Linked DNA regions of Homo sapiens. The protein of the gene in region 1 interacts with the protein of each later gene in a biochemical or structural test. Each region holds a gene or a part of one and is shown in the gene's direction. Other genes may lie near its edges. The genes, in order: PAX3 and HDAC10.

Region 1 (3,806 bases):
GCCTTTGAGAACACCACCAAAAATGTGAACCAGTAATTTATTGATGGGCAAAATTAGGCTGACACCAAGGGACAATTAGCACTAATCCATGAAACTTGGAAGCAAATTTGACCTAAGCCTCCATTCAAGTCAAACCGGCTTTCAATTATTTGAGGTGTTTTCTGGGCACTTTCCTGTTTACTCACAGACACAAAAGGCTTTGGCTGGACACCACAGAGTGAAGGAAGCAAAACAGAGCTTCAATTCTTGGTTTTCTCAGATAGAAGTGTCAGTGTGAGACTTTCTATTTAATAGCTAGCATTTACTGAACATTTAATATCTCCTTGGTATTCTTTTAGAAGCTTAGATTGCATTGCATTTTTAATAGTCACAACAATCTTGTGAAGTAGTTTTTATATTCCCCGTTTAGCACATGGGAAAACAGAGACCCCCAGATATTAAGCAAATTGTTCATGGTCACAGAAGTATTAATATAAATGAGGAGCTGAGATTCAACTTTTGCCTGGTCTGTATTGCACACATGTGAATAAGATGTATTGTTGTATCTTTACTGTAGAAAGTACTAGTTTCCCCGCCACCCGCCAACTTGTAATGTTGAGAGTCTGAACAAACTGGTTTGCTTACTCATAAAAAGTATGAAAATTTCTTTTCTAATTATTATCTTTTTTTCCTAGTTATCATGATGTTATGGGGCTCTTTCAACCAATTTAAATTTTGTTTCAAAAAATCATTGGACATTATACTACTAGAGAAATGCATGTAAAGATCATTTTTCAAAGACATGAAATATGGCTTTATGGAAGGACTCAGTAGAGAGACATACAAGTTGGGAAGTACAGGCGGCAGATAAAAATGAACCGGGCTGCAGTTTATCAAATGAAATAACAACTTGCTTTGAGGGAGACTTTTGATGTAATATTATACATGCAATGATAGACAATTAACTGTGTCTAATAGTATAGTAGGTTACTGACAAATTTGTGCCTCCTGCCCCCACTTCCTTAACATGCCAAGTGTGATGCGGAAGGCCAGGTAATCTTGTGTGGGGATAGTAAAATTACATTGAATTGTAGATCATATAATTTCATTTAAAGGTGTATAGCCAACTTTGTAAATCTTGTTCTTTCCACCCTACTGGCAAAGACATTGGGTGGTAAATTTCTGTTCTCTCCTAGAACATCAGTCATAGGCCAGTTTGCCTCTGTTGCTACTGCTATTCTTTTCAAAACAAGGGGAAATTTCTAGAAAGTGTAACTACTAAGTTATAAATATGTATATTTTAGATGAATTTATTCAGTGTTATACACTCACACATGCCATTCTGCAGATTATTCATTGATTGTATGTTAGGAATTAGTGATACAATATTGAAAGAGTTATCTAAGACTTAGGAGTATCAAGAAAATTTCAGTTAAATGTGGGCTGATAACAGCCTCCTAGGATCACTACGCTTGGTTCGTTCAGGTATTGAAAGTAAAGGTCATTTCTAGGGTACTCTTTTTAGTCTACTAAAAATAGAAAATTTGTCTGTTTTGAGTTTCAAAACATAAAGAAGGCAAAGACCAGTTCTTAATTTGCAAAGTTAGTGTGTTTTTCCTTTAATACTTCTTTTGGCAAATTCAGCTGGTTCTAGGAAATGCAGAAGGCTGGCAATGGTAAGATGATAAAAAATCAGGTTAAATGACCAGAGACAGGCAGGCCAGTCCTCACTAAGCCCTGGTTCTCTTAGGAATAGCCCTCTGGATTTATTTAGCCTAAATTTAAACAACATTTAAATTCCTTCCTTTGGGAATCTCTTGAACCTCTTGCTGAAGGTTTGTTTTTCAGTAAAGATTTGCTTCACAACAATTTCTCTTCATTTTTTATTGTGGATATAATAGATACTGTATAATAAATATAAGGACTTTTTAATCCAACTCCTGGTGAGTTTACTCAATGTCTTTGTTACCTATTTATATCATTTTAGAAAATATGAAAACAAACCCCCAAACCCTTATACTCTTACTCTGTTTGGATTCTGTCTTTTGAAGGTATTTGTAGAAACTCATGATGTTTCTTCTTTATTATCTCAGCAAAGACATTTTTGTTTTTAAAAATTGGGTTATGGTGGAGTTAGAATGAACCTTGAGTCAATAGTAACTTGAGATTGATGGAGAGATCAGGCTTCACCACTCCTGGGTTTACTTATCTAAAGGTTACAGAAGGCAGGTGGCACAGAGAGATTGCCAACAAATCTGACAAAAACCGAAGCGTACCTTTCTGAGTTCTTCATAAAGGGTTTCACCAGTGGAACTGAGCATAGTAAATCTTCATGAGTGAAGTTACATCAAAACTTTTGGAAGTCCAGTTCTCCTCCCAGCAATATAAAGCTGGAGATGCACTGTACATCGCTGGTCTAGATAGTTGCAGAGGACTACCTGATCTGAGCCGGGAGTACCTCCTTAGTCTTGACGTATTATAATATAAACTACAACCACAGTGTGTGTTATGGTACAGTGCACTCAGGCATGAACATGACCCTAATTTCCCACCTTCAGCCTCCCCAAGCTAACACAGTTTGTTCCCAGAACTTTCTTGAAAATGATTTTCTTACCCTGATGCCTTTGGGAGCCGTGGTAACAGGCACTCAGACCGGGGCAGTGAGAAAGCACAGTTAATGCAGACCTGAAATTAAGTGCTGTTCATGGTTCTATTACCCCAGGTGGCAATTTATTAAGTTAAGTAAAACTCTAATTCAATTATGTATCAACATGGGAAAATATTAACTTACCTCGTTTTCCTGTTGGAAACTTAAGGAGTATTAAATGTTGATGTTTTGAGGAAGTTCAAACAGCTTTCCTTACCAGTATCTTGCAACAATGGCGAGAGAAGACAAAACTCTTTTCAGACAAATGCTTGGGTGAGTACCAAAAGTTTGAGCAAATCCCTCGGCAAAGGATTTATTAAATTGAGCTTCTTCTCCAGAAAAATCTTTTCCTCCGCTCTTAAATGATCTGACTTTAAGAATTACAATTAAGTTGCAAAATTGTTAACATTGCTCTGTAAGGAAATCAATTCTCATCTTCTCTTAAGCTGGCCTCCTGTAACAAGCTGCATCTGCCTGCCCTGTAGGACAGGATGGATGTCACTTCCATCTCAAGCGATCGCTCGTCGAAATTAGAATCAAATTTTAAAATGAGCTGAAACTTTTTGCTTCCACTTTAGAGTTTTCCTGATTCTCTGTGCTTCCAAATGTGAAGTTTCTACCTCTAGCGAGCAATTATTTTGGTCTCCTTGACTGCTCTGTGAATCCCATGAGGACAAGGCATCAAACTACCAGAGTGCAGAGATCCTACTTGATTCCCTTTATATCCTTCCAACCCCAAACACAGTGCTTTCCTCCATATTAAGTTTCAATGGGTGGCTCACGCCTGTAATCCCAGCACTTTGGGAGGTCGAGGCGGGTGGATCACCTGAGCTTAGGAGTTCAAGACCCACATGGTGAAACCCCGTCTCTACTAAGAATACAAAAATTAGCTGGGCATGGTGGCGGGTGCCTGTAATCATAGCTACTGGGGAGGCTGAGGCAAGAGAATCCCTTGAACCTGGGAGGCGGAGGTTGGGTTGAACTGAGATCCCGCCATTGCACTCCAGACTGGGCGACAGAGCAAGACTGTCTCAAAAAAAAAAAAAAAAGTTTCAATGAACTTTTGATGTAGGAATTAGAATATCTTTAGTTGGTAGAAATCCTCTCTCATTTTAGGGGAAACATCATGTGTGCTCCGTGGAAAAATCACCCCAAGTTCTACATTTAAACTTTGCAGATG
Region 2 (4,603 bases), on another chromosome or scaffold:
CTGGGCCATGCAGAGGAAGGACAGAGGGTGGGCGCAGGGCACCAACTCAGGGACATCCCCTCTCCTGGGCGACGTCAGTGGACCTTCCTGCACCCCCAGCCTGGAATGTAAATCAGCTGTGTGGTGCCCGCGTGGCTGGAAGGAAATAGACCCTTTTGTAGCTCCCTGTTCTGGCTGTGCGTCCTCATGCCGGGTCCCACCTTAAGACCTCCGGGCCCTTGGCCTGCATGTAGAGGAGGCTGGCCTGATAGCTCAGACCCTTAGAGCCAGGAGGGGGGCCTGAGCATCCCATCTCTCCCAGGCCACAAAGCTGGTGCCCACTTCCCCCAGGCCTGTGCCAGTGATCTTCGAACCCCCACGTTAGGGCTTGGCCCCTCCCCTTTTACGGGGTGACCTGCTAATGGCTTAGACTCTAAGCCACTGTGTGTGGATCCTGAAGCCAGACCCAGGGGCAGGGCCTGATGGGGAGGAGTGTTAGGATCTACCCTAGCTCTCTGCATCCTCCAATGCCAGCAGGTCCCTGGGGGGAGGGGGCACGCTGGGCACGTTGAGACCCCTGTGGTGAAGTGGTGAGCGCCAGCCAGTCCCTGGGGGGACGGGGCACATTGGACATGTTGAGACCCCTCTGGCCCCTGTGGTGGATTGGTGAGCGCAGAGGGCTGGGTTTTATTCTTGATCAAACCTCTAGCCCCTACTACCCTGCTCCAGTGGTATCTTCGTGCCCAGGCCGCCCTCTGCAGGCCACTCGGTGTTTCCAAGGGTGGCGGCTGGAACACAGGCCATGGGCACCTCCAAACCTGTCCCAGGGCAGGGGTTACAGCAGAGAGACCAGTGAGGGGCAGGGCAGGGCAGGCCAGGTGTCCTCGGTGGACATGCCCACAGCTGGCCCAGCCAAAGTGGACCTGATGAGCTGCCACGACAGATGGGCCTTCTCTGCCCAGCGACCCTCATGCCTCTCCAGGGCATCCGGGCCTGGGGGACGTGATCGCCATCAGTTCCGGAGCCACGCTGACTTGTGGCATGGCTGCTGTCCACACTGGGCCCAAAGTGTGGGCCCATAGGTGGCCTGAGGACTGGGGGCCCCAAAATTCTGTGACCCAGCTGGATGTGAACTCCCGCGGGGGCAGGGTGTCCCCTGGGCTCCAGGGGGCCTCAGGTTTCCTCTCGGGCATCTTCCTCCGTGGCTGTGCCCGTGCCTCCTATCTTCCTCAGTCCCCCACCATGCTACCGCAACCCCGGTCCAGTGTCCCCACCTCCACCGACCTTGACTCTGCTCTTGGGCCAGGGGTCTTCTTGGAGCTAGAACCGGACTCACTCCCTCCTTAAACCTCGGGGGCGGTGCTGCGCCTCCATGCAGCCACGACCACCGCCCTGAGCCGGCCGCAGCGCCACCTGCCTCCCCGCGGGCTCCTCCCGCCTCGTGGCCTTTGCCCTGCAGACCCCTCGCCCCCCTCGCCTTTCACCCCAGGTCTTCCTGCGCCCGGGCCGGGTGGGCCTTGGGGCTGCGCTGGACCCTGACCCAGCTGGTGCAGAACGGGGCTCTCATGGGCAGGCTCGGCCACGGGCGTTCGGGTGGGGCTGCGGCGACCACTCGCCTAAGGCCGGGGGACCCCGCCCCTCTTGGAGGGGATCGGGGCGGGGCCAATGGGGAGGCGGAGCCGCAGCGCAGCTCCGAGGGCTGGCGGCTCGGGGCGCCGAGGCTTCCGCGCCCGCTGGTTCCTCGCTCCGGGGCGGAGCTCGCGATAGCGACCGGGAGCAGGGCGCGGGGCGGGACCCAGGTCCGAGGCGAGGAAGCCGGAAGCCAGGCGCGGGGAGCCTCCCCCTTCGACTGCAGCCTCGCTCCGTGCCTTCTGCGCGCCTGGGATCCCGGAGCCTGCCTAGGTTCTGTGCGCTCCCGCCCAGGCCGGTGCCCGCCGCCCGCCTGCGCCCCAGGCAGGTCCCAGGCCTCCGGCTGCTCCCGGCCGAAGGTGGGGACAGGCAGTGGCAGGCACCACTAGCGAGGGCGTTTGGGAACCCAGGGTGACCACGGCGCAGCCATGGGGACCGCGCTTGTGTACCATGAGGACATGACGGCCACCCGGCTGCTCTGGGACGAGTAAGTGGGACCTGGCCGAGGTGGGGTGCGGGGAGGGACCTCTGAACTGAGCTCCTCATCTGCCCCAGCCCCGAGTGCGAGATCGAGCGTCCTGAGCGCCTGACCGCAGCCCTGGATCGCCTGCGGCAGCGCGGCCTGGAACAGAGGTGTCTGCGGTTGTCAGCCCGCGAGGCCTCGGAAGAGGAGCTGGGCCTGGTGCACAGGTCAGGACGGGGGCAGGCCCCACGATGGGGGGCGGGGCGGGCAGCCCAGCTAGAAACCTAAGAACCTGGGCCTACCCCGAGCCTGCCAGCCTCGAATACAGAGCCTCTCCCTATGCACCTCGGGTGGGCTCACAGGCTTGAGGAAGTGACAGGGTGGCCACTCCCACCATGAATCCCAGGTCCCCGCCTCCCGCCCCCCTGCTCCTGCTGGTGACCCTGCCTCTCCTGCCTGCCCATCTGCATGCAGCCCAGAGTATGTATCCCTGGTCAGGGAGACCCAGGTCCTAGGCAAGGAGGAGCTGCAGGCGCTGTCCGGACAGTTCGACGCCATCTACTTCCACCCGGTGCGTGTCCCCGGACACACTCACCTGTGCAGACACACATGCACGTGCCTTTGAGCGTTCACAGCCACGGCCGCCAACCCCAGCCAGTGTCCCCTGGTCCATACACATGACATTGCCCTGCACACCTGCCTGCTGGCACTGCCAGAGCCTGGGGCTGGCCTGTTCTGCTCAGCAGCTGGTGTCTTGCAGCCTGGCACAAGTGTGGGTATGGCCTGCAAAGGGCAGCAGGGAAGGCAGGGGGCTCATCTGCGCCCCTGCGCCCACAGAGTACCTTTCACTGCGCGCGGCTGGCCGCAGGGGCTGGACTGCAGCTGGTGGACGCTGTGCTCACTGGAGCTGTGCAAAATGGGCTTGCCCTGGTGAGGTGAGAGCTGCCCCTTCCCCTGGCTGCTCCTCCGTGGGTGGCCCTGTGAGGGGCCAGGGCGACCCTGACGTGACCCAAATCCTACTCTCACGCCGTAGGCCTCCCGGGCACCATGGCCAGAGGGCGGCTGCCAACGGGTTCTGTGTGTTCAACAACGTGGCCATAGCAGCTGCACATGCCAAGCAGAAACACGGGCTACACAGGTGTGTGCCAGGCTGGCTGCAGGGGGGTGGGCCCAGGCCACACAGCAAGGGGCAGCGCAGGAGGCGAGAGAACCCAGCCAGCACCTTCCCATCCCTGGCCGGGCTCCTGGAGGTGGGAGGCCCTGCCCCTTTGCCACCAGCGCTGTCTGTACCCAGGATCCTCGTCGTGGACTGGGATGTGCACCATGGCCAGGGGATCCAGTATCTCTTTGAGGATGACCCCAGGTGAGCAGGGGTGCGGAAACCACCCTTCCCTGCAGCCCCAGTTTTTGGGTGCACAGCCTGGCCTGGGAAAATCCAGGGGTGAGATACAGACATGTGCTCAGGGGTCAGCGTTCTACAGGGAGCTGTAGAGCTGTTGAGGGTCCTGACCTTTGACCTCTGGCCCTGGCTGGCTGTTGGCAGCGTCCTTTACTTCTCCTGGCACCGCTATGAGCATGGGCGCTTCTGGCCTTTCCTGCGAGAGTCAGATGCAGACGCAGTGGGGCGGGGACAGGGCCTCGGCTTCACTGTCAACCTGCCCTGGAACCAGGTGCCCACCCTCAAGCCCCAGGTCCCCACCCAGCCCCCTCCCCCTGGGCCCCTCCCCTCCCCCACAGTTCACCCTCAAGCCCCAGGTCCCCACCCACCCCCTCCCCCGGGCCCCTCCCCTGCCCCACAGTTCAGGATGTAGCCTGGGATGTCCTGCCAGGTTGGGATGGGAAACGCTGACTACGTGGCTGCCTTCCTGCACCTGCTGCTCCCACTGGCCTTTGAGGTGACTGCACGGAGGGCTCCCCCAGGGCAGCCGGGTGGGAGGGGGACCTTGTGCCTGGAGTGCGCCAGTGAAGGCAGGAGGAGGGTTATGAGCTGTCCCACTCCTGTGTGGCTGGGGAAGGTGCTCAGGAGGGGATGGGATGGGCCTGGCTCGCCCTCACCTGGGCTCCAGCCCCTCTCTGTCGACCCTCCCCACTCCGGCCTGGCCTGTAGTTTGACCCTGAGCTGGTGCTGGTCTCGGCAGGATTTGACTCAGCCATCGGGGACCCTGAGGTGAGGGCCTTGCCTTGCCAGGGAGGGCTTCTGGGGTCCTGGGGCCCAGGTCCCCCATCACACATGGCTCTGGTTCCAGGGGCAAATGCAGGCCACGCCAGAGTGCTTCGCCCACCTCACACAGCTGCTGCAGGTGCTGGCCGGCGGCCGGGTCTGTGCCGTGCTGGAGGTGACTGGGGAGGGCACACAGGGAGGGTCTCTGGGCCAGAGGCCTGGGGGTCAGGAGCATGGGAGCCAGGTGCCCACGGGGTATTTGGGAGGGGCGTCCTGCCCGGGATAGAGCCAGGCAGGGGCTCTCCCGGTGACATCCCATCCCAGTGATATCTCTGCCCCAATCATGTCTCCACCCTCCTCCCAGGGCGGCT

Evidence for each region.
Region 2: the proteins of PAX3 (region 1) and HDAC10 form a complex in vitro, tested with the Homo sapiens proteins (one study listed by BioGRID).

What each region holds. Positions count from the first base shown.
Region 1 is NC_000002.12:222,222,277-222,226,082, reverse strand, and holds part of PAX3 (paired box protein Pax-3), read left to right. Parts: intron 1-662; exon of another isoform or gene 663-3,806. UniProt on the Homo sapiens protein: Transcription factor that may regulate cell proliferation, migration and apoptosis. Involved in neural development and myogenesis. Transcriptional activator of MITF, acting synergistically with SOX10.
Region 2 is NC_000022.11:50,248,466-50,253,068, reverse strand, and holds the start of HDAC10 (polyamine deacetylase HDAC10), read left to right. Parts: upstream 1-1,803; 5' UTR 1,804-2,036; coding exon 2,037-2,095; intron 2,096-2,163; coding exon 2,164-2,298; intron 2,299-2,545; coding exon 2,546-2,642; intron 2,643-2,908; coding exon 2,909-3,006; intron 3,007-3,104; coding exon 3,105-3,209; intron 3,210-3,365; coding exon 3,366-3,434; intron 3,435-3,614; coding exon 3,615-3,741; intron 3,742-3,900; coding exon 3,901-3,966; intron 3,967-4,178; coding exon 4,179-4,238; intron 4,239-4,317; coding exon 4,318-4,407; intron 4,408-4,596; coding exon 4,597-4,603. UniProt on the Homo sapiens protein: Polyamine deacetylase (PDAC), which acts preferentially on N(8)-acetylspermidine, and also on acetylcadaverine and acetylputrescine.